4 linked regions of the Homo sapiens genome follow. The protein of the gene in region 2 purifies or fractionates together with the protein of the main gene of each other region. This does not show direct contact. Each region holds a gene or a part of one and is shown on either strand. Other genes may lie near its edges.

Region 1 (7,026 bases), on a different chromosome or scaffold from region 2:
GCTTTTGAGAGAAAAAAAACCCAGCATGGCCACGGCAAACCAATGGAGCAAGTGAAGGTCAGAAAGATGGTCAATGTTTTAAGGTGACAGACATAGCCCCTCAAAAACTTGCTTAGAGTTTCCATCTGAAAGTTACACTCAGTGCTTAAATTAAGAGATTATCTGTAAATACGACTGTATTTCAGTTCAGGGAACAGCCAGAACTCTTAAGGCTGGCCTGGATCTAATCATAGGGAGACGGTATGTTGAAAGGTATATACTGCCTGGAGATACACTGATGGTAGAGTCAGTGCAATCCACACAGGGAGAAATCTGTCTGGCCCTCTCCAGGGCAGAGACATGTCCAATACAACAGACATGACCACAAGAGTCACGAAAAAAGTACTGTCCTATATAGCACAGGGATAATGTACCAGAGCTCACCATATACAGTTCCAAGAGCCACCCCCTTCTCTACTCTATGTTCACCAAGCAATCTATATATGTCATTTCCCAGCAACCCCAACACCGGATAGAAGTGCCCTAGTAATGAGACATGACTATGACTACACACTGGTCACTGGAAAGGAAAATCCTTCACATAAGAATAGACAGACACCTGGTTTACACACCTGTCCACTATAGGCTTGCATAATGTGGGTCAGTTACCCTCGAACAATTATAAAACCAACTTTAAGAATTCAGAAAACTAATGATTACTAGATGCTAGACCATGAAAGGTTTATTGAAGTAATGGTATCTTTTGAAAGGCTAACTATATTCGATTAACAATTATGTTTCCTTGATAAAAATTTAATATAAATTCTAAAGGCTTACTCTGATTTGATGAATAGATTTGTATTTTTCTGGTACTGATAGTTCTCCAACAGACTTGATTATAGCTACTGCTTTGCTATCATCTGATGGATCAGAGCTGGTGCTATAGGATCCATTTTCATCACTGTCGGGCATCTCTTCCTCCTCTTCACTATAACTTTCATCAGAATTCTCATTTAAAGGAGATTCTGAATTTTCTTCCTTTTTAGGTTCATCCAATTGAAAAAGTTCTGAAAGCATGTAATTGGCGGAAGCAATAATCTTATGAAAAAGAGAGAAATATGTGTAAATTACTGTCATCAAAAAATACATGAATTTTACTACCATACTAACGAATTTTAGGAGGAGGTCTGCACACAGGCTGTTTCCACCATATAGACTGTAACACACACAGAAATGTTCCCAGTTCAAAGCTACTGATACTCTGGGTATGCTCTGCAAAATCTTTATAGGCTGATGCATTTCCTATTTCCCGAAATTACTCCACCCTGAGCCCTCCCTCTTAAAAGGTGTCAACTGAATTTCACTGGAGACAAACAAAAGCTTTTGAGTACAGAGTGTCATAACTAAAATATTAACAAAAATTTAATACCACCCTATGCCAAGTGAGAAACCAGAATTTTTCTTTACAAACTATAAATTAATTCAAGTTTCTCTATAATAGGTAACTAATATTTATCATATAATCTATGGTTCTAGAAAAAAAAAACCATTACATTAAAAAGGGAAAAGTCCATTCTGATATCTCTTAAAATTAGCATTTATATATGACCATTTAACCCATTCTACTATTTATCAGTTCTTAATCACAGACAATAGTCTTTAACACCATTTCTAACATCCAAATAAACCACTCAAGTTCCACTAAACACTGCCACCTCAGTCAGCAATTAGGTATTTCAGTCAGAAACAAAATGTTTTACTATTTTTCTTCAAAAACATTTCTGAGTTTGGTCTCTAGGATAATCTTTATCTCTAAATCAAATGTGGCTACAATTAAAATTACTTTGGCTCTTCAAAGAAAAATTGCGTATCTTACATACCTTTACTGATTTGAACAGGATACAACAAATAGCCTTAACAGTGAAAAATAAAGTTGTCAATCAGACAACCGAGGGTAAGGATGGTGTAAAACTGTTGGGAGCATGACTGAGGGAATATTTTAAGAGATGCTTTTTCCCCTTCTCTTTAAAAGAAATTTTACTGGCCTTTATTTAAGAGATGCTTTAATATCCTGAAGTGTGGAATGTGAACCCTATTTATATTAACAAAGTGGTAACAAGGTCTAATAGCGACAAAACAAAGAACTAAGGGCACTACTGTTAGAATTACATGAATTCTAAATTCATTGAGCAGTGCTGTCTGAGAGAAATGTAACATGAGTCACATACAGAAATTTTAAATTTTCTAGTAGCTACATTTAAAAAGTAGAATCTGTGAAATCAACTTAAATATATTTAATCCAATATATGTAATATTGCATTTCAACATGTAATAGGTACAGACATCCAATCTTCAAAATTCAGTGTGTATTTTACACTTACAGCACATGTCAATTCAGACAAAGCACATTTTAAGTGATCAACAGCCACATGTGCTAATGGCTACCACACTGAATAGGGCAGTTACGGAATATGAATCAGGAGGCTTTACTGTCTAGGTAACAATCTCCTATTAGAATGCTAGGATTGTTTTAGAGAATACATAAATGTTAATCTTACTTGAGGATGCCTACTTTTGTCCAGTAATTTCAGACAATTAAGAAGCAATGTTCTAATAGTTCCATAGTGTTTCTTATTTTGATTCTTCTTCATCATCATGTTGCAAGCAACCCTAAAAAAAGAGTTTATATCAACTTTACTGCCCATTTCATCGTTGTCTGCAAGACTCAAGTCTAGGAGTGCTCTTGTTTCTTTCCAACAAAGAGCTATAAGAAACAACAAAATACTAAACTTTACACTTTACCCACAACCCCCAAAACGTTTATACTATGGTGGCATAAGAAAGCTGAGTAATATTTGGTACAATGTGTACGTGTATTTTTCCCCCTACTATGAAAACCTAAAAGCATTTAAAAGCCTTGGTTTGGAAACTGTGACTGTATGCTTTAAAACTTTATATAATAGGCTACTTCTTCATCTTAAATTCTTAAAGCACTCACTTGTACAAGAGAATGGCTACCGGCATTGTGAATGGATTTTGGTATTTGTCTTCAGTTTCTTCACAAAGAGTAGTGAGGTCATAGAGCTTCACTATATCGCTGCCACTTGCTGAAAAGAAAAACAAAGAAGACTCATTTCACAGCAGTTACCCAAATCAATTATTGTTCACTCAAGAAGTATTAATAGCTTACCTTTAAAGAGCCAATAGGTATGTCCTTCTTTGGTACAATTAGATTTCAAAAATGATAAAATATTCTGTGCAATGTCTTTTATGACTTTAGTAGAAAAATTAGAATTTTCCAAATTGGGAATTTCTTCTGTCTTTATCATTTCATATTTCTGTAAAATACAGACAGATGGAAAGCAGTTTAAGAGAAAACCCAAGGAAACAACACCTTTCTTTTTAAAAAGCAACCAAATGCAGAAGTCCTGCAAACAGAGACCTATGTAGCATGAAAGTGTTTAAACCAGTGGTTTTTAATCTTTTTTCTGCCCCAGCCTCCCAAAGGAATCTCATCCACCCCATCAGCAAGGGCAGTTCACTATTGGAGTAATTTCAATGGAGAATCACTACCAGATTTAGAACCTCAGATTCAGGCATGATCTTATTTCTGTTCTAACATGGAACAAATCATACTGACTACTTTTATTCCACTTGAATGGTTTTCAACTGGGAAGATGGTAAATGAAGGTAGGCTTTACCCAGCAAGATTTTAAAACACATGTATTTCTGGCCTTTTTTTTTGCTAGAAACTACAGTCAGTGACTCAAGGAGAGAGAATCATTTAGGAAATTTTCCAGTAGACACCTCTCTTCCCTTCATCTATGGACTTTATTACTTCACAGGGATGGAGCAGGGGGGAATGGAGGTGGCAATAAGAGTAAAGGCTTCATGGACATTACTACCACTATTTTAAAAGTGCCTTTGCATTTTTCTTGTTTATCTTCTGTGCACACTCTCCTAACCATCTCCTACCACATTTTCTGAAGTACTCTAAAACTGGAAACTTCAAATCAACTGGAATGTAAGACCAAACACAATCGTCTGAGGTTGATTTTCACCCCACTTTGTTCATGTGAAGTCCCCAATGTTGATTATTTCCTTCCTTAAAATGCTCCTTTCCTGTATTTTAATCTGTGCTATTCTTGTTCTCCTTCTCTCTCTCTAAATGCCCTTCTATTTTTACCCCTATGAGGAGAGGCTCCAATGTCTGATTTTAATAGATTCCTCTGGTGATGAAATCTGACAGTATCTAGGCAGATGATGCTTCAATTTATTTCTCTAATGGCTGCAACTTCAAAATGCTCACTAGACATTTTTATACTTTCCTCAAACTGAACATGTGACAAAAACATATTACCTTCCCTGTCTAAACCAATTCAACATCCTTATCTCACTAAATGGCACCACCATTATTCTAGTCCCTAAACCCTGGAATCTCCTTTGACTCCTGTTCCCCTCCGCCTTGCTAACGCTTTATCTGCCTCTCTCTTTTCTCTTGCTCCCCACTCCCACCCCAGCCTCTCACTAAATGTTGCCATTTAGGGAGATGGTCTAACAGTGGTTTTCAATCAAGACTGCAAACCAGAATCATACAGCAGACTTTCAGAAAAGACAGAAGTACACATCCTACTGATACTAGAACACTGGGGGCCCAAGCAAGTGCATTTTTTCAGAGACCACAAGTGATTCTGATGCACAACCAGGTTAAGAATCACTGGGTTGGAATATAACGGTTCAAAGCATGTCCTCAGCCAGAGAGAGGCACAAAGACTGGCACCGCCACTCACTACTAAGTTGACCCTGGGCAACTCACTTGAGCTCCTTGATCCTCAGTCTCTCTTTCCATCAAATAGGAATAACAGCATGTGAGGTAGCTAAGAAGATCAAATAAGGTAAAGCATTTAAAGCATTCAGCAAAGTGCTTGGATAAAATAAGCACTCAATAAATGCTATCTATTCTTACCATTGTTGATTCTTAATAGTTCCTCTCTAGTGGAAAGTACATTACACTATCTGCAAAATGGTACAATGCCTCTGGTTTTCTTGTCTCTAAGTCCTCCTTTTCTGTCCTATATGCTATCTCTAAATTAATATTCTAACACAACAAATTTCCCCTCCTAGATGCAAAGCCTTCTGATTCCAGATTACCAACTGAACCAAGTCCATACTCCTTAGCTCAACATTTAAGATCTCCATCATTTGACCATGACTTTTCCAACCTTACTTGCAGCTATTCTGCTACATAAATCCTGTGTTCCCTAGCTGGATTTATTATCAATCCTTTCATGTATTTACACTAGACTTTTAAAATCCAGCTCTTATTTTTTGAGATACTAGCTATCATTCAGGACTCAGTTAAGATGTCCCTTCTTCCACAAAGTCTTTCCTCCAGACCTGAATGGAAGTGCTCACCCCCTTCTCTGATGATCTAGATTTCTGTGTGCTACACTTCTAATTCTTATCTGTCTCCTACTGTTCTCTCTGCATATTATTTCCCATTAGATTATCTCTTTCTGAATAACAACCAAGCTTATTCTTTGTTTTCCTTCAACAATTATTTATTGTTTAAATTCTCAATTTTTTTATTTTTTTGAGACAGGGTCTTGCTCTGTCACTCATACTGGAGTGCAGTGGCACGATCATAGCTCACTGCAGCCTCAAACTCCTGGGCTCAAGTGATCCTCCTGCTTCAAGCCCCCAAGTAGCTGGGACTACAGACATGTACCACCATGCCCAACTAAGTGTGTGCGTTGTTTTTCTACAATTAGGGTCTCACTACGTTGCCCAGGTTGGTCTTGAACTCTCGGCTTCAAGTGATCCTGCTGCCTCAGTCTCCTGAGTAGCTTGGGATTACAGGAATAAGCCAACACGCCTAGCTTCCCCCAACACTTATAATGGGGATACGTGTCTTCTAAACAGAATATGCTCAATAAGAATTTGCTATATAAGCTATCCACCATATGCAATTTTTACAAGACCTTTCCCTAAAACTTTGCATGTACTGAGTAGATATTTGCATAACGAAGAAACGCCTCCATTGTGTAGACACTTTCAGTTAATTATTAATGAGAGCTTGGCATTAAAATTAGAGTTCTATGGCTACAAATGCAGGTTTTCATATATTTATGAACTTCCTCCAAATTACCTGTAAAATTATACTTCTATAACATCTACAATTCTGTTATCACCAACTTAAATGTACACTCAAATTCAGTTTATTCACAGCTATCTTCCCTGGCAAAAATGCACCTTAGTACTTCAGGGCCGTAAAGACTTTGGTGAGGAACTCTCTGTACCAATTTGCATTTGAGAGATCAGAAAAATCACACTGTATCTTACCTGTACAATTCCATTTACATGAAAACACATCACAAGCTCTGGCACATTGCATATCAAGTTGTCCAACCAATAGTCAATTCCAGTTAGCACATTAATTGGTTTGTTGTTATCCCTAAAAATATACATTTCTAGTGTTATTTGGTTTAATTAAGATGTTCCTTAATTAATCATCTGAAAGTTATTTCACCATTTAAGTATCTTAAGCTGTCCTCTCTAGATAGAAAATGCCATCTATGCTTTCTTTTCTGATAAGATATGCACATGCAGCTCAGTGGTTGTGCTATATTTAACATCTTTCCAAAAGCTTGCTTGTATTTCTAACTGACATTGGTAAGTTTTCAGTAAGAATAGAAGACAATATAATAGGAAAGGACGGTGAGCCTACTGCCTGCTCCTCACACACAACTTGAAGAAAGACTGAACACCATACAAGACCATGCTTAAGTTGGAATTCACATTGGCTAATATCAACAAATACACGTGGAGCATTAAGAAAAATGCTCACAAGTAGTTAGTAGGAATCTAACTAATTAAATAAACTCTCTTGAATATTCTCACAAGTTGTAGATTCAGACCTAAGACTAGGCCAGTCCAACAAACCTCTGGCTCTATTCAATGAGGTCTAGAATGAAGACTCAGCTATAGGCCTGCCTTTCAGCATCTGCTGACAGTAGCTCCTTCCTTAATGTGGCCATTTCAACTGGC
Region 2 (7,598 bases):
CTAAAGGTTTCTCTCGCTGATACATGAAGTAGAACCAAACTTTCCCAAAAAGGTAGATCCAATTCAATCCAAAACTATTCCACGGCCTAATATCACCGAACACTTGACAAAATATTATGCGGGCTCCATCTCTTACCTCAAAATTAGAGTCAACCTGTGATTAATTTAATCCCAGCTTTAATTATAGTCAAAGAATGAATGCTCAGCAAATACTTCATTTTAACGCTATCCACTGCTACCCTATTCACAACCTTGGAAGAAATTATAAGCCCTCTTTTATGGTTCACTTTTCCTTATTCAAGTAATCTGCTCACTAGCTGTTCTTCTTTTATTTTTTACTACACGACAGTAACGAGTTGCAATGGAAAGGTCATCTGATCTTAACCCGAACTGGAATTATCTAAGAGCATTTTATATACAGAGATAAAATGGATTATTTTACAGAATTAATTTTACCCCCAATAATGCTAATACACTTTACAGAAGTACAATGTTACTATTTGCTAACTACAGGTAATCAGCTACTTCAAGGCAGGGACCATGTTTGCCGATTGGGATCATTAAAGCACACAACAGAGCACCATAGCATTTAGAATAATTAATATTCCTGAGATTGTCTTGAAAAGACTTCCATGTATCGCTAATAGGATTCCTAATGCATGTAAGTCTTTTGGAAAGTTAGTTACATCTTTAAGAATCTTGAGCAAATTCTGGTTTATTCACTAGATGGATATATGTGAGAAACTAATTTTTGATAAATCTGAGGATAAGAACTGTGTATTTAAAAAATTTTTAAAAACAGAAAAAATTGTGTATTAAATGTAATTACAATTATTTCTTTTTAAGAAACTGCAATGGAAAAAAAGACTGGAAAGAAATGTTAGCAGTATTTGTAGTTGGGTAATGAGACTATGGCTATTTTCTTTTCTCTGTATGCTAAATTTTACTTAGTATGCACTAGTTTTACAATGAAACAATTAAAGAAAAAAGAGGAAGGAAGGAAGAAAAGAAGGAAGAAAGGAGGGAAGGGAGAAAATAGGAAGGAGCACTGCTTAAAGGTAAGAAAATGGCCTAATTAGACCAGTTAGTAACCACTTAGTTAAATGCTATAATTAAGCTTTTACCCTAGCAAGGAACTTTCTAAGTGATCACAAATGATAACTAAGTCATATAATATCTGCACTGAAGGGACATCTTACCTAATTCTGTCATTTGACAGGTGTAGCAAAGAAATTATAATTATACAATGCTTTACAGTTTACAAAGTGTGTTCAAAATGTCACATCATCTGTCCTTCAAATACTCCTGAAATAGGCTCATATGCCCCATTTTAAGGATCAGGAAATTGAGGGTTACAGAGATAGTAATGTGCCTTAATAATAATGTCTATGATTTATCAAATGTTTACTATGTGCCAGACTCGGGGATAAGCACAATCTTGCGAAAATTATCCCTATTTTATAGATAGAAGGTGAAGGGGCCGGGCGCGGTGGTGACTCACACCTGTAATCCCAGCACTTTGGGTGGCAAAGGCAGGCAGATCACTTGAGCCCGGGAGTTCCAGACCAGCCTGGGCAACATGGCCAAACCCCGTATGACGGGGGGGGGGGGGGGCAATTAGCCGGGCGTGGTGGCACACACCTGTAGTCCCAGATACTTGGGAGGCTGAGGTAGGGGGATGGCTTGAGCCCAGGAGGCAGAGGTTGCAGTGAGCCGAGATAACGCCACTGCACTACAGCCTGGGCAGCAGAGTGAGACCCTATCTCAAAACAAAAATAAAAAAAAGGAGAGAAAAGAGAAAGTGAAGGGTAGCCAGGCACAGTGGCTCACGCCTGTAATCTCAGCACTTAGGGCGGCCAAGACAGGAGGATCACTTGAAACCACGAGTTGGAGACCAGCCTGAGCAACATAGCAAGACTCTGGCTCTACAAAAAATAAAAAAATTAGCCAGGGTTCGTGGTGTGAGCCTGCAGTCCCAGTTGCTCGGGAGACTGAGGCAGGAGGATCGCTTGAGCCCAGGAGTTCGAGGCTGAAGTGAGCTATGATCGCATCACTGCACTCCAGCCCGGGCGACAGAGCAAGTTCCCGTCTCTTTAAAAAAAAAAAAAGAAAAGAAGGAAGGAATGTAGGTAGGTTAGGTGACTTGCTCGAGATCATACAGCTAAGTCACTGCTCTGATTCTAAGCCATACACTTAAAACAGAAGTCTTGAGTTACCTATAATTCAACTTCACAGAGCCCTTTAGTAGAGTTGGCTTATTATCCAGTCCCATGTTCTCTCTTTTAAGAGTTAGTAAGTCTGACAGCCATTATGAGGGTCTACAAGCAAAAGCACTAGCCCAATCATACCCAAAAACTCATGTTGGCGGAGAGCCCATGCCTCAGATGAAAGGCGTGAATAACTAGAGTGGAGCGGACAAAGCTAACAAGTCTTATAATGTACACATTAAGAAGCAGAATAAACTTCAGAGTAAATACGCAGAATAAACTTCAGAATTCAGAGTAAACACTCTCTCCCGGAGCAGCAAGGATAACAACATCACGATATCAACAATTCCAGCACCTTACACTCCTGTAACCTAGCGCAATTTCCGGAGAGCCTTCAGGTTCATCTCAACGGATCCTCGCAAAAACCTGTGGCCTGGGCTGAGCAGAGCGGGAAATCAGTCTCACTTTACACAGGAAGCCGAAAGGAACGCCGAAGAAGGCCGAGTGGGCAGAAAAGCACGAGATTAAGAGATAGGGGCAGCCACCTGGGGAGACTGGGCGCCTCCACTGACTGGAGGAAGAACGCAGGGCCCGCTGCGGGGACAAGGCCCAGAGAGGCCGTGGTGCTGGGTCCGTCGCCCGCTGAGGCTCAGGGGCCTTGGAGGTCGGCCCAGGCGCCTATCTACTCACGTTGGACCAGCTGGTCTCCTGAGAAGACGGAGGAGCAGCTGGTGACTAACGCACAGGGTACGCCAGCAGCCATAGCTGCGCTCGCGAGCCGGTTCCGTCAGGCAGCCGCTTCCGCCTTGGGCTGCACCACGGCCGCCGGCGCGAGGGGGAGACAGGCCGGAGAGGGCGTTCTCGGAATGACCAGGCTGGCCTGACCCCGCCCCTAGACCCCCTTCCGCTCCCAGCGTGGAACAGGCCAGGTCGCGCGCGGTGTTGCCATGGGGACGAGCGGCTCCGGCTGAAGGTTTCCGTGCTTGGAAACCGCGCCTCCGCGGAGGTAGCCGTTCCCTGACCTAGCCATGGCACAGAACACTGAAAACCACGACCCTGTCGGATCCATCTTAATCCAGGTGGGAAACGGGCTTCCCCCGGCCCTGCCCTGCCCAGCCGCGCCACTTCCGAGCGAGGTCCCGCGCGCCGATTCACCGACGCTCACCCATTTGGTGCGCCGCCCCTAGACTCCCTCCAACTCGCGAGAGGCTCCCAAAAATGCCCACCCAGACCTTCCCCCACGGCCCAGCACACTCCCGGTGACTTACCCTGTAGGTTACGCCCCAGAAGCAGGACTTTCTGCCTCTGGGAAAACTCTAAAACCGTTCACCCGGAACCTTTACTTCAGAAAAATTAACCTCACGCTGAGGCATCATTTTTAAATGTTATATTCTGAAAAATTTGAACCCATGACGTCGGGAGTGGAGGAGAGACAAATCGGACACTCTAGGAGGTGATAAGAAATTTGGAGACAAATTGAAATATGTGAATTGCTTTTCTTAAACACCCCAGTTTTTTAGATCTAAATGTTCCTCATTGGAGAACACACAGAAAAATCAAGATAACTTGGAATGAAAAAATGTGACATTTAAAAACTTAGTGAAAGACCTTTTTAATTTGAGAGGGGAAATGTCAAGAAAGTCTTGTCCAATACAGCTCAATTTGTAATAGTTGCACTCAGATGTTTCTGAAATGATCATGGCATTTTGTTTTCACATTTATGTGAGGTAACTTTAAGATATTTCCACATATATCATCGGTTTTAACTATCACATATATAATAGCTGCATTTGACTAAGTCTTGAAGTCATTTGTCTAAGGTCACTCTGTCAGGACTGTCACTCAGTTGGTCTGAAGTGGGTCTTACTCGTCAAAGGGATCTAATTTTTCTGGCAGAATTTTGATCTCTTACCTCCCATCTAGGAGAGACTTCCCTAAATGTACCTTTTCCCAAATACAAGCCCCTGAACTCACCAATTTCATAGACTTCCCCATTAAGAATCATACCTAATCTTACCTGATCTTTTCTCACCCTCACTTTCACCATCACGCAGCAATGAGTTTAGCCAAACTGCGAAGTCTGAGGGAACGGTCCACAAAAAACTGCCCTAACTTCAACACTCACTACCTGCAAGTTCAGGGGTCCCCAGAACCACCTCACTTCAGACCAGCTGGGTACAAACTTAGGGGCCCCATCACCACCCTCACATTCAATGATTCACTAGAACTATTCGCAGAGCTCAGGGAAGTGCTGTGCTCACATCTCCAATTTTATTATAGTGAAGGCATACAAATTAATCAGCCAAGGAAAGAGATGAATAGGACAGAGTCCAGGAGGGGTACAAACATAGAGCTTTTGGTCATCTTATCCCTGTGGAGTCATTGACGTCATTACCTGCATTACTTCCTCCCAGCCATGATATGTGACAATATGCATAGAATATTGCAACTAGAGAAGCTTATCTGAGGCTTTGATGTCCAGAGTTTTTACTGGGGCTCAATCTCACACTGCCCTTGTGGTTGACCATTAATCTCCAGCCCCTCCTGAATACTTTTAGTTTCCCGCTGCTCCAGAGGTCTGAGCTGATACAGCGTGGATCAAAACACCCATTATAAATCATGTTGATAGACTGTCTGGTGGCCAAAGCCCACAGACAAAGACACTTCTATCAGGCAGGACATCCCAGGCGCCTAGAGATCACCTCCCAGTAGCCAGGAGCGAAGACTGGACCCCTCTTTGGGTAAGGTTAATTCTTTGCTGCACATACCCACTCTTTTTATAGATTCCAAATAATTAGAACAATAATGGAGACTCTTACCTAGGATACAACATTATAGTAATAGATAACTGTTGACACTGACTTGTGAGATGGGTCAGAAGAGCTAATAGTCATATCCATGTTGATCTGCACCCCTACTTATTTAAAAGGATTCCTGTGGACATATCAAGTAAAGGGCTGTGTAGAGGAAGAGAGCCTACCTGTTAACCAGATTATTAAGACTGATTCCTGTATAGTATAAAATTCTATTCTCTACATGTAGAATATGTATAGTGAGGAAATTTGGAAGACTTTCCCTACTTTCTCAGTGAATCCTGAGAATGTGTGAGTATGTAGCACCACCCAACTGTGCCAACGTGGATTCCACTTCTATTTGGGGCTATGATTTATTTCCCTCAGACAGGCTACCAATAATTAGTGTGTCTAGTGGAAAGCACTTGATAGGGAGTCAGAATACTGAGATCTGACCATGACTTTGACAGTCTCACAAGTAGTGACTTTGAGTTAGGCACTCATCTCTCTGGACCTCACTTTCCTCTTCCATAGGACATATAGTTTGGATTAGGTTCACTTCTGACTTTAAATTGTCCCAATTTCCCCAGGCTACATCATTTACTGTAAAAGTAGACTTCCTTTGTTGTTAGCCTAGGCAATCAAATTGTTTCTGGCAAGTCAGTGACTGAGTGAGTGTGTGTGTGCAATAGACTGTAAAGCAGAGGTACTTTAAATTTCTACTTGCTTCACCCTAATATGGTCAGTTACGTCTGTGTATCAGTCAGATATATTAAACAGCTTTTTAGACCAGTGGTTCTCAAAGGTGTTGTAAGTATTATTTTTTAGCTCCAGTTTACAGAAGACACTTAGGTACAAAGAAGTAAAGCATCTTGCCCATTGTAATACATCCAGTATGTATTGATCCTTAAATAGGCTATGGCATGTTCATGAAGTAATCTTGAAGAAGTGTGATAGTGACTCTGGGAAGTTTCCAATCATGCTTTGTAAATCTTAGAAGCTTTGTTTTTATGCTTCATTAAAATGTGGTATATTCTTAATATATCTTTATAAATACTTGCTTGACCCAAATATTAAATGTTTGTGTAACAAATATTACCTGATCTTATGATTCAAAATTAGCTTTTTAATTAAAATCCAACAATTGTGTGTTAACACAAAAATCCAACAATTGTATGTTAACAATGATCTTGGAAATATGGGAGCTCAATTGACAGTTTGCTATTTTCATTCTTTCTGATTGTGTCTGATTTGTCAGGTGCATACAATATAAAAATGAATGAAGTTGGCCAGGCGTGGTGGCTCATGCCTGTAATCCCAGCATTTTGGGAGGCTGAGGCGGATGAATCACTTGAGGTCAGGAATTCAAGACCAGCCTGGCCAACATGGCAAAACCCCGTCTCTACTAAAAAATACAAAAATTAGCTAGGTGTGGTGGCAGGCACCTGTAATCCCAGCTACTTGGGAGGCTGAGGCAAGGAGAATTACTTGAACCTGGGAGGTGGAGGGTGCAGTGAGCCGAGATTGCACCAGTACACTCCAACACAGCAAGCAGCACAGCGAGACTCTGTGTCAAAAAAAAAAAAAGGCCAAGCGCGGTGGCTCATGCCTGTAATCCCAGCACTTTAGGAGGCCGAGGCGGGAGAATCACCTGAGGTCAGAAGTTCGTACACCAGCCTGGACAACCTGGTGAAACCCCGTCTCTACTAAAAATACAAAAATTAGCCGAGCGTGGTGGCATGCTCTTATAATCCCAGCTACTCAGGAGACTGAGGCAGGAGAATCACTTGAACCCGGGAGGTGGAGGTTGCAGTGAGCCAAGATCGCGCCATTGCACTCCAGCCTGGGGGACAAGAGTGAGACTTCATCTCAAAAAAAAAAAAAAGAATGAAGTTAAAGATAATTGAGGTGATGAGAATGACTCAGCCAAACTCTAGCAGAGATGAAGAAAATGGAATTTTATATTGCTTTTGACAATATAGAGTCTGGTTTCATGGCTCTTGTAAAGTCTAGAGCAAATCTTTGCTGCATTAAATCTTTCAAGGGCTTCTTATTAAGTAGCTCTGTCTCCAAATTGTCAAAATAATAATCTTTCTCCAAGTAGAAAATTTATGGAAAACAAGGTGTTTGATGATCACAGAGATGATGGATGATATGTAAAATTTCAATATGGTAGATTGGATCTATCTGAAGAAAGAGATTTAGAACTCAAATCTCTTTTTCTACCCAAGTCTGGTTAACTTTTTCTATAGTATTTGTCTCTATTGCAATTATACAAACAGATGAGTGGTTGTTAAGAGGGGAGGAGAAAATATCTAGCAAGAAAAGGAAAAACTCTTGAGAAAGATTAGGGAGCAAGTTATTCAATTAACATTTACGTAAATTCAATTAACATTTACAGGGTATTACTTATAGTGTAAGGAGTTTCACTAGGTTTTATAATTCAGAAGAGAATTAACATTTGTTCAGTGCCCTCCTATGTGCTTAACACTATACAAAGTACTTATATTTTTACTCATTTTATTCTTGCCACTGTTCTGAGATAGCTATTATTATTCCCATTTTACAGATGAGAACACTAAGCCTCTAAGAGGCTACA
Region 3 (6,967 bases), on a different chromosome or scaffold from region 2:
ACTACTTACAAACACATCTCATGTATACACAAAGTTTTTAAAACATCTATGTGATTGAAATAGTCTACATAGTCAAGGTATTTACACGTGAGTAAGATTCTAAAAATCAGATAAAAGGCATGTCAAATATTAGTCATTACTTTATAGATTTTCGGGGAAAAAGAATTAGACTCTATCTGTACTTGTCTCAATTCAGAGAATTACTCACACAATTTAAAATACTGACCCTACTTTCCCCTGCAATGAAATGAATTCATTAAACTCTTCTATAAAGATGATTAAGCATGAATAATCATTTATGCCTTTAATTATATAACTAGTTTTCAAAGGATTTCCCTGCCTTTATCATTTCAGCCTCAGTAATTATCAATCAAAACACTAGTTATTTTAAAAACACAAAGCTTTACCTTAAACCTATTTCATCTAAATCTTTATTAATCGTTATTTATAAATGTCATCACTGAAGTCTGCAATTTCCTAAATGACCTAACATTTGATTCTATTTCACCTTTCTGACAAACAAAAATTATACCTTTTGTAAACAATCTTCAGATCTCGCCACTCAAGGAAGCTGCACATTTTAGGTTTCCGTGCTAAAACGGTCTGAACAAGTTCTCTTGTGATCTTTTTCTTCTCTTTGTCTGATAGTGGGACATACCATTTTTGCAGTCGAAGCTTTCCCTGACGACTAAAAAGCAACATAAACTGCATCTGTTAAGATAAATAAAATCAAGATTACATGTAATACTTTGAATCAATAAAGTTAAGATTATGTGTTTCACAGAGAAGTTTTGGGGGATGGGGCATTTACATGACAAATGATTAGTAGCCATCAATATTTCTATGCCAATTAAAATAGCAAGAAATTCTTTTGGACAGATCTTCCTCTAGATGCAAACCTTCCAATCCCACCTTGTTCCACATTAAGTTTGAAGGGGAGTGTGCAGGAGAAAAAAGAAAAATGGGTAATAAGCTGAAGTGAAATTTTTGAAGAAAAATAAAGATCACTCTTTCAATTTAAGAAACTATTTTCTACCTGTGCTATACATTGCGCACTCTCTATATGCATCAAAAGAGAATGGTAGACATCATCTGGTTTGGGTACTTTTGAAAGAAACAGAAGACCTGCTATTTTTCATCCTGAGGCCGTTCTAGTTCCAGGGTGAATTACTTGCAGACAGTAGCTTATGTCTTGGAATGTTCTCCTCAGTTTATGATGGCATATTTTAAGCAAAACAGAATGATCCAAAATATTAACTGAAAAATCCCATAAATACAAATTTTCATTAATAAAAAAGTATGTTTTCATCTGACTTTTAAAGCATTCCAACTTAAATATGTACAAAATCTAGAACTGAGTTAATGTATTATGAAAAAGAAAACAAACGTTTAAAAGGCCACAATAAGATTTACACTTATTAAATAAGATTCAGCATTGAAACATTACATGAAATACTTCATTTAAAATAAAAAATAGTATCTACAGATGGAATGGATGCTGAATTCTAGTGTGTTTTATACTTAAACTAATTTGTATGTATTTATTTGTGATCTGCAAATGTGTTGATTAGTCTGCATGTTTCATTTTTAACGCCAAGCTTTTTGTAATCCAATTGGTCATCTCAACTGCAAACAGAAGTATTGTTTCTACAAAGGTAATTTAAAGGCAGAATTCACATAGGTATCCTTTTTTCTTTTAATCACTGTTAAGTTCCTTTAACAGCGTTACTGCAAATAAGATTCAAGCATGATTCTCAAGATTCACCACACCATCTTGAATTTGAACACGGGGAGGGGAAATTTACAGAACCAATGTAGAATAAAAATGGGCCCTAAATTTCGGTAAGAAATTATCGTCGCTTTTTGTAACCACCCAAAAAGGTATCAACAAGATATCTAGAAATGTATGACGTGGCAATTCAACTTTAGTAAAGTTAAAATGGTCTTATTACCTCACTTAAAATGCGTCAGGGGAACAAAATATAAGGACATTATTAGGTGATACCAAAGTGCCTCCCGTGCAAGTCCTGAAGATAGCGGCATTCGAAGGGGGCAGGAAGTGAAGCATCAACTGGGCATTTACTGCAAACCCGTTACCAGAACTTGGAAAAGAATGGACCTCGTATTCCTAGATCTTGGTGACCAGAAAGGGTGAGGGTTTGCCTGCGAAGAGTATGGGCTCAAGGCTGTCTGGAGCAGGGTCCTGTATCCGCCCTACCACTTTGCAGGACGAAAAAACAATGTATTCTCCTTAAAATAAATTATGTCCTAACATGGGACGAAACCCGGTTGCAAAGCACGAGTATTCCTTCCCTCGTGTTAAAAACCAACGCTTTGATTTTGCCGCAAATCACAGGGCACCACAATTCCTCGAGACTGGCATTAAAAACAATGGGCTCAGCCGCGGCGCGGGCTCGGGGCCAGCGTTCCTCGGGTCCGGCCGTCGCCGGTGCCTCCCCCCCACTCCCGTGGCCACACTCCATCACTGACCAAGCCCGGGAGAGGTGACAGGCAAGGAGCGGAGCAGACAATGGCATCCGCCGCCGCGCAGGGGGCGCCAAGAGTCCTCGGCCGCCACCGCCCCCGGCCCCTCCCGAAAGCGCCCCGCAAAACTTGAGGCGATTCCCGAACCACAGGTGCCGCGAGGCTGTCGCGGAGCCCGGGACTGGCCCCCACATCCCCGGGCGCGGCGCGGAGTGGTGCGGAGGGCGCGGACACGGAGAGAAGTGAGTTGCGGGCGCGGCGACCCAGTGGCGGGCCGGGCAGGCTCGGGGTGGGGTCGTCGGGGCGCGCGCGGGGTGGCGGGGGGCGCGCCCAGTCCTCCCTCCCCCTCTCCCCCATCCCCGGCGCCCCCTTTCGCCCCCAGGGACTTACGGCGGCCGCGGGCCGCGGGCGCGGCGGAGCTTGGCCGGCGGCGGCGGCGGCGGCGAAGGGGAAGCCCCTGTCGCCGTGCTGAGGAAGAGAAGCCGTGGTGCTGTGGGGAGGACACCCGGCTGGCATAGGGCAGGCTTAGGCGGAGAGGGGAGGGCAAGCTGACAGACCCCGCCCCGGGGGCCGGACGAGGGAGGAGCCGGGGCTGCGGCGAGCTGAGGGGCGGGCTAGGCGACGCGCGGGAAGCGGCTCAGCGGTCGCCAGCGGCACCGGAGGCAGCGCGGGTAACCGCTGAGTCCAAGGCAGCCGATTGGAGGTTTCTTCGCTGAGGGGAGGTGCGAACCGGAAGCCGGGCCACGTGACCCGGAAGCGGCGTTTGCCGGGCCCGAGCGCCCGCGCGCCCGCGCGCTCTTGCAGGTGCCTCCGGGACGCGCGCGGGCGGCTGTCCTGCTTGTTTAATGATAGGAGGACGGGATTCTGCAGCGTCCTTAGCCTAGCGGGTGGTGCGGGGCAGGGAAGTTCCGGACAGCGAAGAGCCACGTTCGAGCTCTAATGATTCTCTGTGTCCCCAGAGAGGAAGTGTGAAGTGTGACGGCTGACGAGGAGGGTGGGAGGAGACGAGGGAGTGCTGCAACTCTGGAAAAACAAGTCAGCTCTTCTGTGGAGCTCGTCACGCATTCACGGGCCTTTTGCTATCATTCTGCCTCAAAATTGTCCGGAATCCGCCCTCTCCTTCCCATTGCACTGCTCCAGCCCTAGCCCAGACACCTTCCGCCCCGAGCTTCGCGGGAGTCTGTTCCCTGGGCTCGCCTCGCCCATCCTCGGTGCTGCGGACTGGATGAGTTACCGTCCGTTCGGCTGAAAAGCCCGGACAGCACCTCACCTTCGAGATCCCGCTTCCTTCACACTGGGTCGCCCCACCAGCCGCCTGGGTTCCAGTTTAGCACTGCCGACGACTTGCTGTGCCTGGCATGTCCTTGCTCCCAAATGTCACATCTATGAAGCCTCACCCTAAAACCCTGTAAGAGCGATTCCCTCTTTCACCCACATGCCCGTTAGCCTTTATTTAGCACACCTTAAATTGTATTCATTTTGCATCTCAATCTAGTTCACAGCCTGGTATATAACAACTAATAAATGTGAGTTGACTGATAAAGACTATAAAATGATAAATTTGTTAAGAGCTGTAATGCTGAGCGTAATGCCTGGGCATAATGGATGTTCATAATTTTCTGAATGATAGAATGGATGAATCATCTAGTCATTTACAGATAAGGAAAGGGGAGTCCCACGGGATTAGGTGACCTTCCTTGAAGAGCCACGGGTTTCCCATATCGAAATGCTATTCATTACCCGAGTCACCTAGGTTCTTACAAAGGAAGCGAGAAAATTGCTTTTGTTGGGCCATGCCCCTTTTGCAGAGGTTCCTAAGTATAGTCGCCAGAATTTTTTTAATGGCCTAAAGTAAAAAAAGAAATGCTAAAATTTTCACGAAGCTAAATGTAATCAATGTAAAGGAATCCTTTATTAGGGATTATATTCTTTTTGTGTACATTATAGTATCTATGAAACTAAGACAGTAGTTTTGGGGGCTTTTAAAAAATGCTTTTGTATGACAAAACAAAAAGAAATGTGTAATACTTCCCCTTTTCAAGCACTACTGTGCTGCTTGGAAAGTTTCCTACTAACATGTATGATTAATGTATACTGGAATATTAAAGAAAGGGGACGACACACGGCACAGAGCTGGCTTTCTGTAGTTCTTTAGGTCCCCCTCGCCCCCACCAGATTTCTCCCTACCTAGTCATGCCCCAAAGGTGCTTTCGAATGTCCCATTTCTCTCTTACTACAAGAAACAGATGCCATTAACCAGTTAAAAGATAGCTCTAATGCTACACAATGAAAACTCGCCCTCTGAATCCAAATGCTGCTTTTCTCTTTTTCTGTACAAAACACTTATATCCTGAAGGTTCCTGAGATAGCCACTTCCAAGTTTAAACTCTGATTATGCTCCTAATGTTGCTCTGAAAATGAGGACGGGAGACTTGCTGATGACATACTGGCAGTCTCCTTTCCTGCTCCTAGCCAAAAAAAGGTGGGGGTAGGGGTAGGGAGGGGAAGGAATTGTGGGAAAAATAATTAGCAGCTGAAAGCAGCTATTACATAATCTTGGCTGCTTATTAATTTAGCAGAAGGAATGGCTTATTAAATTCTAATAGCAACAGCACAACTGCAAACAACCTAGCAATTAACAGTGCAGGGCCCATTATTTTGTTAATATGTTCTCTTCTTTTGGCAAGTGTATGAGAACAAAATTTATAGAAGCAGATGGTCTTTTTCAATAGATTATAGATGGTTTATTCCCTAGTCTTAGTATTAAGTGCTAATTATGCATTCACTGTGAAAGACAAAAGAAACATGGTTGCCATCTTTGTTAGTAATTAACTGCTTGACTTTGATTCCCACAATTTCCCAATTGTAGGCTTTGTTATATACATGTTTCTTCTCACCTAGTGTCTTCTTCATCCGTCATGTCAATTGGTTATCTTTTTTAATCCTGTTTTTGTTTTCTAGATGGTCCTGATTTATTGGTGTTAATATTGATACAAGAATTATATACAAAATTCGTTTCATGAAAAACTAAAAATCAGATTTTATACTTGTTTCTTAAATTTGAAAAAAATGCTTCACTGTCATTTATGCTAAATGTAAGAGGTGAGGGGAAAATAGAAATCTTTACCTTCTAACGATAAAATTTTGAGACTTTTTATGTAATCTTTCCAAAGTTTTCAAAAATAATTTTAGTTTCCTATTAAATGTGTGATGGCCATATACTTTTATCCTCTCACTGTCTCAAAATACCATTAATTTTTTTTAAAGGGACTATTTAAAACACATACCCACGTGGAAAATAAGAGAGGGAACATTTACATGAGGATGTCGATAAGGATGTCAGGATACACTGTCAGCTCATCATTTAAACACTGATGATTTAAAGAAAAATTGTCATATATTGATATTATGGAGGAGCAGAAGTGAGGGAAGGTTGAAATAATGCTAAATCCTCATGTGCTAAAGGGAAGAAAATAGATAACATCTAAAATAAATCACGAACTAGAATTATTAGCATATTCTTTCGATACCAGGAAGTAAATCCCAGAAGCAATGGTGAATTTCTTTCCATGGACAGAATCTTGCAGTAGGATGTAATAAAGGGTATTATTACATTTTACTTAGGTTTTTTCTTAAATAATTTTTTAAAATATTGTAAGGAGGTAGATAAAAACCATTCCATTAGTTGCTAGCTCTGTATTATGGACTTATACAGAGTTCCTTTAGCCAGTCTATAGATTATTTAGAAATTATTAAATAAAAATGCCCAATAATGGAATTCAGTGCTGAAGCCTTGTAGATCACAGAAAGTGTAAAAAAGATGTTTAGAGTTTGTGAATTTGCATCTCCAAAGATAAAGTTGTTCCAGGGAGAAAAATGGCCTAAAATAATGAGGATTTGTGAACCAAATCATTTCAAAATAGATAGAGCTGTCACTGCCAAAGTCCTCAACAATGAGCTAAAGAGAAATGTGGAACATATGCTCTTTCTCGAAGCCTGTTTCCATAGCTTTGAATAAAATGCAGGAAAATTACTACTGCCCTATGAACATTAGGATAGAGCAGTGATTCTCAGCCTGGGCACTTTTGCCTCCCAGGGGACACTTGTCAGTGTCTGGAGACATTTTGGTTGTCACAACTAGGAGTAGTAGGTGATGCTGCCAGCATCTAGTGGGCAGAGACCAGGGATGCTGCCCAGCATCCTGCAACATACAAGAGAGATCCCATAGCAAAGAATGATCCAGCCCCAAATGTCACTAGTGCCAAGGTTCAGGAAGAAATCCTGGGTTAGTCACTGAAAATATTAACATGCAGTAGCATATTTTTATAGACATTTCAAGAAATGGAACAAACATTATCTTCATATAAGTTTCTCTCTCTCTCTCCCTCTCTTTCTCTCTCTCTCCTCCCTCTCCCTCTCTCTCCCTCTCTTTCTTTCTCAGAGTTGGAGCCATTATTCTTAATATCTGCTAGATAAAATCCTT
Region 4 (7,026 bases), on a different chromosome or scaffold from region 2:
AGTGCACCTAAAAGGGAGTAGAAACGGCCTCAAACATGGAAGGCACCTCATTAAATGTTCAATGAATTGGGGCAGTGAGACCAACAGAGAGACATAATCAATCAGTAAGGCAGACATGTCACTGAAGGCCAGAATGATGCCAGTGATGACAGAAAGGAAGACTTTCAGACAGCAGGCCATTGAAGAAAGAGCTGGAATGAACACTGGCCCCAAACAACATCCAAACTGGTTACCTCTAAATTGCTTCCTGCCAAATACTGGCCTCTTTCTACATAAAGGCGAGTAAGTCAAAAGAACTTAGTTTATTACAGTTTCACGCTATCTGGGACAGAGGCTATTTAAAATACATCGTTTAGACAACAACAGTACAACGTAAGTAATTTGGAATGTTGCACGAACTGAAAATGTCATCTTGATATCACTAGATAGAGTTGTACTGTTTCCCCCTACAAACAGCAGGCTACTTTCAGCGAAAGGGCAGTGTAGGAGAAAAAGATCACCACCCCCTATACCTGTTCCTTCTTTTCTCTGTTCTGTACACTCTGAGGGGTCTGTGAGCTGTTATTATGGCTTTCTCACAGGCCCATTTAAACACTGAGGATTTGGAAAGACCAAAATCTAGACTAAAAATATTAATGTTAAACACACTGAATCATGACATTGGTCCTCCTCTTAGGTGTTCCAATCCTGTTTTGTCCTCGACAGCTTTGTTGTGCCAAGGTTTATTTTGAGAACGTTTCACATATGAGGGCCTATGCTTTTTTGTTACAATATAATTTGGTGGTTTATATCCAGGCACCATAGAGAATCACAGGTCATTTCAAATACAGCCCTTACATTTGTCAAAGATGAGAAAAACCCTTCATGGTAGACAGGAGAATTGAGTGGAGAATGAAAATCCTTTCCTTTTTTTTTTTGAGACAGAGTCTCACTCTGTCGCCCAGACTGGAGTGCAGTGGTGCGATCTCGGCTCACTGCAAGCTCCGCCTCCCGGGTTCACGCCATTCTCCTGCCTCAGCCTCCAGAGTAGCTGGGACTACAGGCGCCCGCCACCACGCCTGGCTAATTTTTTGTATTTTTAGTAGAGACGGGGTTTCACTGTTAGCCAGCATGGTCTCGATCTCCTGACCTTATGATTTACCCGCCTCGGCCTCCCAAAGTGCTGGGATTACAGGCGTGAGCCACCGCGTCTGGCTGAAAATCCTTTTCTTTCCGATGATTTTGATAGTCTAGCGACGGGCATTTGAATCGGAAGATATTTTCATATTTGTCCAAGATCTCAGCCAAATGCATAATAAACAAATCTGAGAAACAAACCTCTGTCTCGGAATGGGAAACATGACTTAAGATTTTATTCACTATCGTTCGTTTATGAGCAATTATTACATACAGAAAAAACTTCACAAAGGTCAAAGGGAGTTTTGATCATCTGATGTTTACTCACGTTGGTCCTGAAGGAGGATAGGTTGATTTTCTGCAGTCCTCTGTCCACTGAAAAGCAAAGAAAATTAAGTTTCAGAAAATAACAAATGCTTGCCAACGGAATAAGCAATTTCAAAAGTAGTTAATCTGTGAAGACAACATCAAGTCTGATATTGCTCTTTTATACGTTTCAATGCCTCTTAAAATAAGTCTTTTCTTTCCAAGAAAACTTCTAAAATCCTAAACCATTAAGTGGATTTTCAGTTTCAATTCAATTTGTAAAAGTGCTAGGTGTTATAATTTGGCTCTAATATTTCAAATATATTGAGTAACGAACAAATGTAACAAAGTAGATGGAAAATATTTATGTTAGAGAGGCTGACTTAGCACTAAAAGTAAATGACCTGATAGGATGTATTATCTGCACTTACCAGCCATGTGTGTTGCAACCTGTCCTGGGATTTGCCTCCCAAACCAGATTTTCAGGGCACACAGCACAGGGCCCTTCATCATCTTTCCATGGTAACTTACCATCCCAGCCTCATCTCCTGACACTCCCCTTAGTATTTATAGCCATACGCAGGCACTTCCTATCATCTCTCACCCTTCCATGCCTGTGTCTGTGCTATTCCCTCTTGCTAGAATGCCTTTTCCCCACCTGGTGAACTGCTGGTTCTAACTTCCAAGATTCAGTTCAAGCATTTTCTTTCTTGTGAAGTCTTCATCTATCTTCCATATGAAAATATTCATACCCTCCTTTCCTCCCACAGCATTTGTGCACACTCTCATCAACATGTTTATGACACTGCTTTATAATCATCTGTTTGCGTTCCTTGTCAATACCAGACTCTGCGCTCCTTGAGGTGAGGACGGCCCCCAACACTGACGTCACTGCCTGAGACAAGGAATGAACAGACTCTTTTAGGGGAAGTTGTCCAAGCTTAGTGGCAAAATGGAACCTTCTCCTAAACTTATCAAAAAAAGTCCACACAGATTTATGATTCTTTTGTTACTCATTCAACATATCAAGTGTCTTTATCTCCTTTCCTCTGGAGAACCAGTTCTGTGAAAGTAAAATAATTGTTTTAAAAAAGTACAAATCCAAAATAAGATAAAGTAGAGTAGGTAAGAAAACTCTTGGAACTGTAGCTTGAGCTCAGAAAACTCTTGGAACTGTAGCTTGAGCTCAGAAAACTCCTGGAACTGTAGCTTGAGCTCAGAAAACTCCTGGAACTGTAGCTTGAGCACAGAAAATGTATCTGCTGGACAGCTGTGTAAGAATGGAGGTCTAGCACCTTGTTTTAACTTTTGATAACATGGGGAATATATAAAGTAGGTTGACATTACCTGTGATTCAAACATTAGCTGTCAAATTTGCCTTACCACACTGTAAGTTTCTCACATATGTCTGGCTTTGTCTGGTAATTTTGCGTTGAATTCATTAAGAAACAATATCAAGTCTGTAGCAAAAGCTAATTTCCAAAGCCATTCGTGTTCAGTAATAGTGGCTGGGGGCAGCTCGTTTAGAAAAACTTCAGTCTCAACTGTGAACTCAAAGACTGCAAAACTTTACAGCTAGCAAGCTATCTAATGGCTCTGTCACAAGAGACATCAGGATATCCGGCCTCTATTTCTGATAATTCACAGAAATGATGACGGTTATATCCACAAGAGCAAATGAAGCTCATGGTTTATATTGCCGGTTCAATAACACATGTGAGATTCCAATATTTTCCACAAAATATCTGAAAAGGAATACTATAATAAATAACCATGAGCTTTAAACACCTCGCATGTTCACAAGTTTTGTGAATTTGCTCAACTCCGCCTTTTTCTACTCACAAATATTTTTACTACTGTCAATTTTTATAGATCTTAGCAGATTCCATTCCAGGTTATACTCAATCATTATTTTCTCAGCTTCTTCGAAAACATCCTCGCCTGTAGTTGTTTTATACAGATGATTCAGAGGCTAACTCTTCAGTCACTTCAAACTTGGCAATGATCATCTAATAAATATCAACAACTGATCAGTTATCGGTATGTTGACAGTCAAGAAAAATCACTCAAAAATCACATGCTTTGTTCTTTAATTGATATTGATGTTCTTCCCAAAGTCCAGGACAAGGGTTCTCAATGACATGTAAAATAATTTCATTTTCCCTGGACACAATACTTCTGCTACTACAATCGAATACAATTTAGGTAATCCACCATTGGTAAATGGCTTTCCTTATTTTGCTAATAAATGAGCTACTTAGAGACTTATAGGGGTTGCAACTTAATTTTACTTTGTAAAATTTGTAAATAAGTTCTGCTGTGAGGAGATACTCCGCTTTACATTTTCTTGTTTATCTGACCATTGTTTTCCTATGAGTTGGGAATACTGTGATGGGTACTTAACCCAAGTGCTTAATTTTATGATCATGTTGTGGACTTAAGACCCTGCTCCATTAGTGACTTGTAGAAAGTTACACAGCTGGTGACAGAATCAGAGTCAATGGCTTTCCCTGTTCTATCAAACAGCTTCCCACAGAGATAATAAAACCAATGCCTCAATTTAATTCCTAACAGAATAATCTGCGCGTAGTTCAGGGCTTCTGGTGATCACTAGAATCAACTCGGCAAATTAAGTGAAACGTAATGACTCCTATCCCTTCCTAATAATGACATTTGCACGCCCTGGGTTCCAAAGCCAAAATAAACATCAAATTACAGGCACATTTCTTACTAGACAACTGTGAGCAAAGTTGAAAATGCTCTGTCTAGTATTAGGAGAGAATGTGACCTGCCCCAGAGGTAAGAACTAAAGAGCAAGCTAGCAACAATACATGTGGAGTGAGTCTGAGGTTGATAACGACTCTTGGTAGCAATAAACAAACGTGAAATTGGCATAGAACCTGGCTGCAAGGAAATAGGATAAGTGTGACAGAAAATAAGAAAGTTGGCAGCTATGAGACTACAGTATTTCAGGGGCTCACATGGCATGAACGCCTAAGTCGTTTATGCAAAAAGGTTAGTTTTAGGGGTAGGGTGGAAAAAAGAGCTACTTCCTCCCCCTCAAAAAAGAATTCTACAGGGAGACACAGCTTCAAAACCCACGAGTAGCCCTAAAACAGAATTATAATGAACTTACTTAATGTTATTTAAAGTTCCTTACTATCCCCAAGTTTATAAACAGTTTAATAACAGACAACTCTATTAAGGCAGGTAAAAACTTAAATAGATGATAGGTAAAGATTAGAAACAGATGATAAGAAGAGAGATTATGTGGTCTGGATGGTATACTATGTACACCCTATCACAGGAAACAAAATCCAACTTAGAATCAATTCTCTCTAACCCTCTCCCCACAGTACCTCTCTTTCTCTCTCTCTCCCTGCCCTTCCCTACCTTTCTCCCTGCCCCTCAGTGGTCTCCTAAGAGTGAAGATAAGTGGTAAAAATCTGATATTTCAATGCATTTGAAACTCTCTGGGCCAGGCATGGTGGCTCATGCCTGTAATTCCAGCACCTTGGGAGGCTGAGGTGGGTGGATCACCTGAGGTCAGGACTTCAAGACCAGCCTGGCCAACATGGCGAAATCCCCGTTACTACTAACAATGCAAAAATTAGCTGGGTGGCATGTGCCTGTAATCCTAGGTACTCGGAAGGCTGAGGTAGGAGAATTGCCTGAAGCCGGGAGGTGGAAGTTGCAGTGAGACGAGATAGTGTGACTGCACTCCAGCCTGGGAGACAGAGCAAGACTCCATCTCAGAAAAAAAAAAAAAACAAAAAACTCTCTGGAAAGTGCTTTTAAAAGACTGTTTGGGTCAGAAAATTCTCTAATTTTTCTGGTTATTTGATAGAAACTTAAGCCTCTTTGAATGTCCTCCCCATTCATTAAGAGAAATTAATTACAGAGCTACTGAACACAACATTCTAAAAAAAACACAAAAATATAAAGAGAACATTAAGGTCTCAATGAAAGCGCCATACCCTTAAAAAATGGCATAACTTGTACAGCTCCTTAAAATATTTGAGCCCGAAAGAATTAGGAGACCCTCAATGAAATAATGTATGCTTCTAATAGTGAATTTTAAAAGTCCAGAAAGCCCTTGTGTGCTTGTCTTATTGAAATACTCAGAAAGAGACAATGAAGGATAATCTAAAATTACATACCTCATGTCAGTTTTCATACCCACCAGAAGCCAAACAACTCTAGCCAGACAATTTTTCATTCATTCAATTCTTGAATTCATCAACAACTATTTTGCAGACAAGTTTTTCCTATAATGTCCTCTTATGTACAACTCAGCAGAAACACTGAATACAAAGAGGCATGTTTCCTACGTGTACAAGAATTCACATGAGCTTGAAAATGTTTTCACTTGTCTTCTGGGCTTTGATGGGATGGCATCCTATTAAGCTACTGATATTTAGGTCAAAGGAATGTGAATAAACCCTCCATGAGAGGAAGGACCTCATCTATCTCATTGGCTGACGCATTCCCAGCGTTTAGGAGTCTGGCACATAGTAGGCAAGCAGTATTTGTTGAATAAGTGAATGGATTACACCTGTGTGTTCCCTCTTTGGGAGAAGTAGGGAAAAGCAGATGAAGTGCAATAAATTCCTAGGCCAGATGGGGTCTATGAGATTTCTGGCAACTGCGTGAAAATCATTGCTAAAGCTGATTCAATAGCTAATGTCAACAATGTTGACATACGCTGTTAACTAGTATGAGAAGCTGATGCATAAAAATGAGTTTACAAGTTTACTTTGGCAATTAATTACTAAGCCATTACGTTTCATCTTCGCACATCTTATGAAGTGGGTCAGATTTATTACGCAGAGCAGCCATCTCTCCCCTCTAGTTCCTTTCCTGCCAATCACACTTAGCCTACCGCAAGCTGTTTTCTGCCCCCAACACTGCTCCAGTCGAGGTGACCAATGACCTCCAGTTGCCCAACATCATAATACCACTGACATCTCAATAATATTCAACATAGTTAACCTGTCCCAGTCTCTTCCCTGAGCTTCCTGTTCCACTTACTCTCCTATTTTTTTGTTTTTGTTTTCTGTGACGAAGTTTCGCTCATTGTCCAGGCTGGAGTGCAATGGCAGGATCTTGGCTCACTGCAACCTCTCCCTCCCAGGTTCAAGCAATTCTCCCGCCTCAGCCTCCTGAGTAGCTGGGACTACAGGCGTGAGCCACTATGCCCAGCTAATTTTTGTATTTTTAGTAGAGACAGGGTTTCTCCATGTTGGCCAGGCTAGTCTCAAACTCCTGACCTCACGTGATCTGCCCACCTTGGCCTCCCAAAGTGCTGGGATTACAGGCATGAGCCACCGCGCCCGGCCTGTCCTGTTTTAACTTTGGCAATTTCTCCTCTTCTTGACACATACATGTGCAAGTTACTTAGCCTTTGCCTAGTTCTCTTTTCTTCTCTTTCTCTATCCTATTTCTAGGTAAGTTCATCTGCTCCAAGGGCTTCAAATATAATATCATTATGCCAGTGACTCTCAGTGTCTCTCTTCTGAGTGCCAGTCCGAGTGGCCTGCTGGATGCCTCTCTGCCACCTGAAATTTAACATACACCCCAAATGAAAACGATCCTCATTCTTTA

Evidence for each region.
Region 1: the proteins of AAGAB (region 2) and EDRF1 purify together in Homo sapiens (affinity purification with mass spectrometry; 3 studies listed by BioGRID and IntAct, with this or other methods). This does not show direct contact.
Region 3: the proteins of AAGAB (region 2) and AP1S2 purify together in Homo sapiens (affinity purification with mass spectrometry; 3 studies listed by BioGRID and IntAct, with this or other methods). This does not show direct contact.
Region 4: the proteins of AAGAB (region 2) and ASAH1 purify together in Homo sapiens (affinity purification with mass spectrometry; 3 studies listed by BioGRID and IntAct, with this or other methods). This does not show direct contact.

Annotation. Positions count from the first base shown.
Region 1 is NC_000010.11:125,729,695-125,736,720, reverse strand, and holds part of EDRF1 (erythroid differentiation-related factor 1), read right to left. Parts: intron 6,450-7,026; exon of another isoform or gene 6,434-6,449; coding exon 6,322-6,433; intron 4,857-6,321; coding exon of another isoform or gene 4,796-4,856; intron 3,318-4,795; coding exon 3,170-3,317; intron 3,087-3,169; coding exon 2,978-3,086; intron 2,650-2,977; coding exon 2,538-2,649; intron 1,078-2,537; coding exon 817-1,077; intron 1-816. UniProt on the Homo sapiens protein: Transcription factor involved in erythroid differentiation. Involved in transcriptional activation of the globin gene.
Region 2 is NC_000015.10:67,251,662-67,259,259, forward strand, and holds the start of AAGAB (alpha- and gamma-adaptin-binding protein p34), read right to left. Parts: upstream 3,001-7,598; 5' UTR 2,971-3,000; coding exon 2,898-2,970; exon of another isoform or gene 2,753-2,897; intron 1-2,752. Other genes in the region: IQCH (IQ domain-containing protein H), read left to right, coding at 3,236-3,286. UniProt on the Homo sapiens protein: May be involved in endocytic recycling of growth factor receptors such as EGFR.
Region 3 is NC_000023.11:15,851,814-15,858,780, forward strand, and holds the start of AP1S2 (AP-1 complex subunit sigma-2), read right to left. Parts: upstream 3,001-6,967; 5' UTR 2,875-3,000; intron 712-2,874; coding exon 533-711; intron 1-532. UniProt on the Homo sapiens protein: Subunit of clathrin-associated adaptor protein complex 1 that plays a role in protein sorting in the late-Golgi/trans-Golgi network (TGN) and/or endosomes.
Region 4 is NC_000008.11:18,074,097-18,081,122, forward strand, and holds part of ASAH1 (acid ceramidase isoform a preproprotein), read right to left. Parts: intron 1,492-7,026; coding exon 1,445-1,491; intron 1-1,444. UniProt on the Homo sapiens protein: Lysosomal ceramidase that hydrolyzes sphingolipid ceramides into sphingosine and free fatty acids at acidic pH.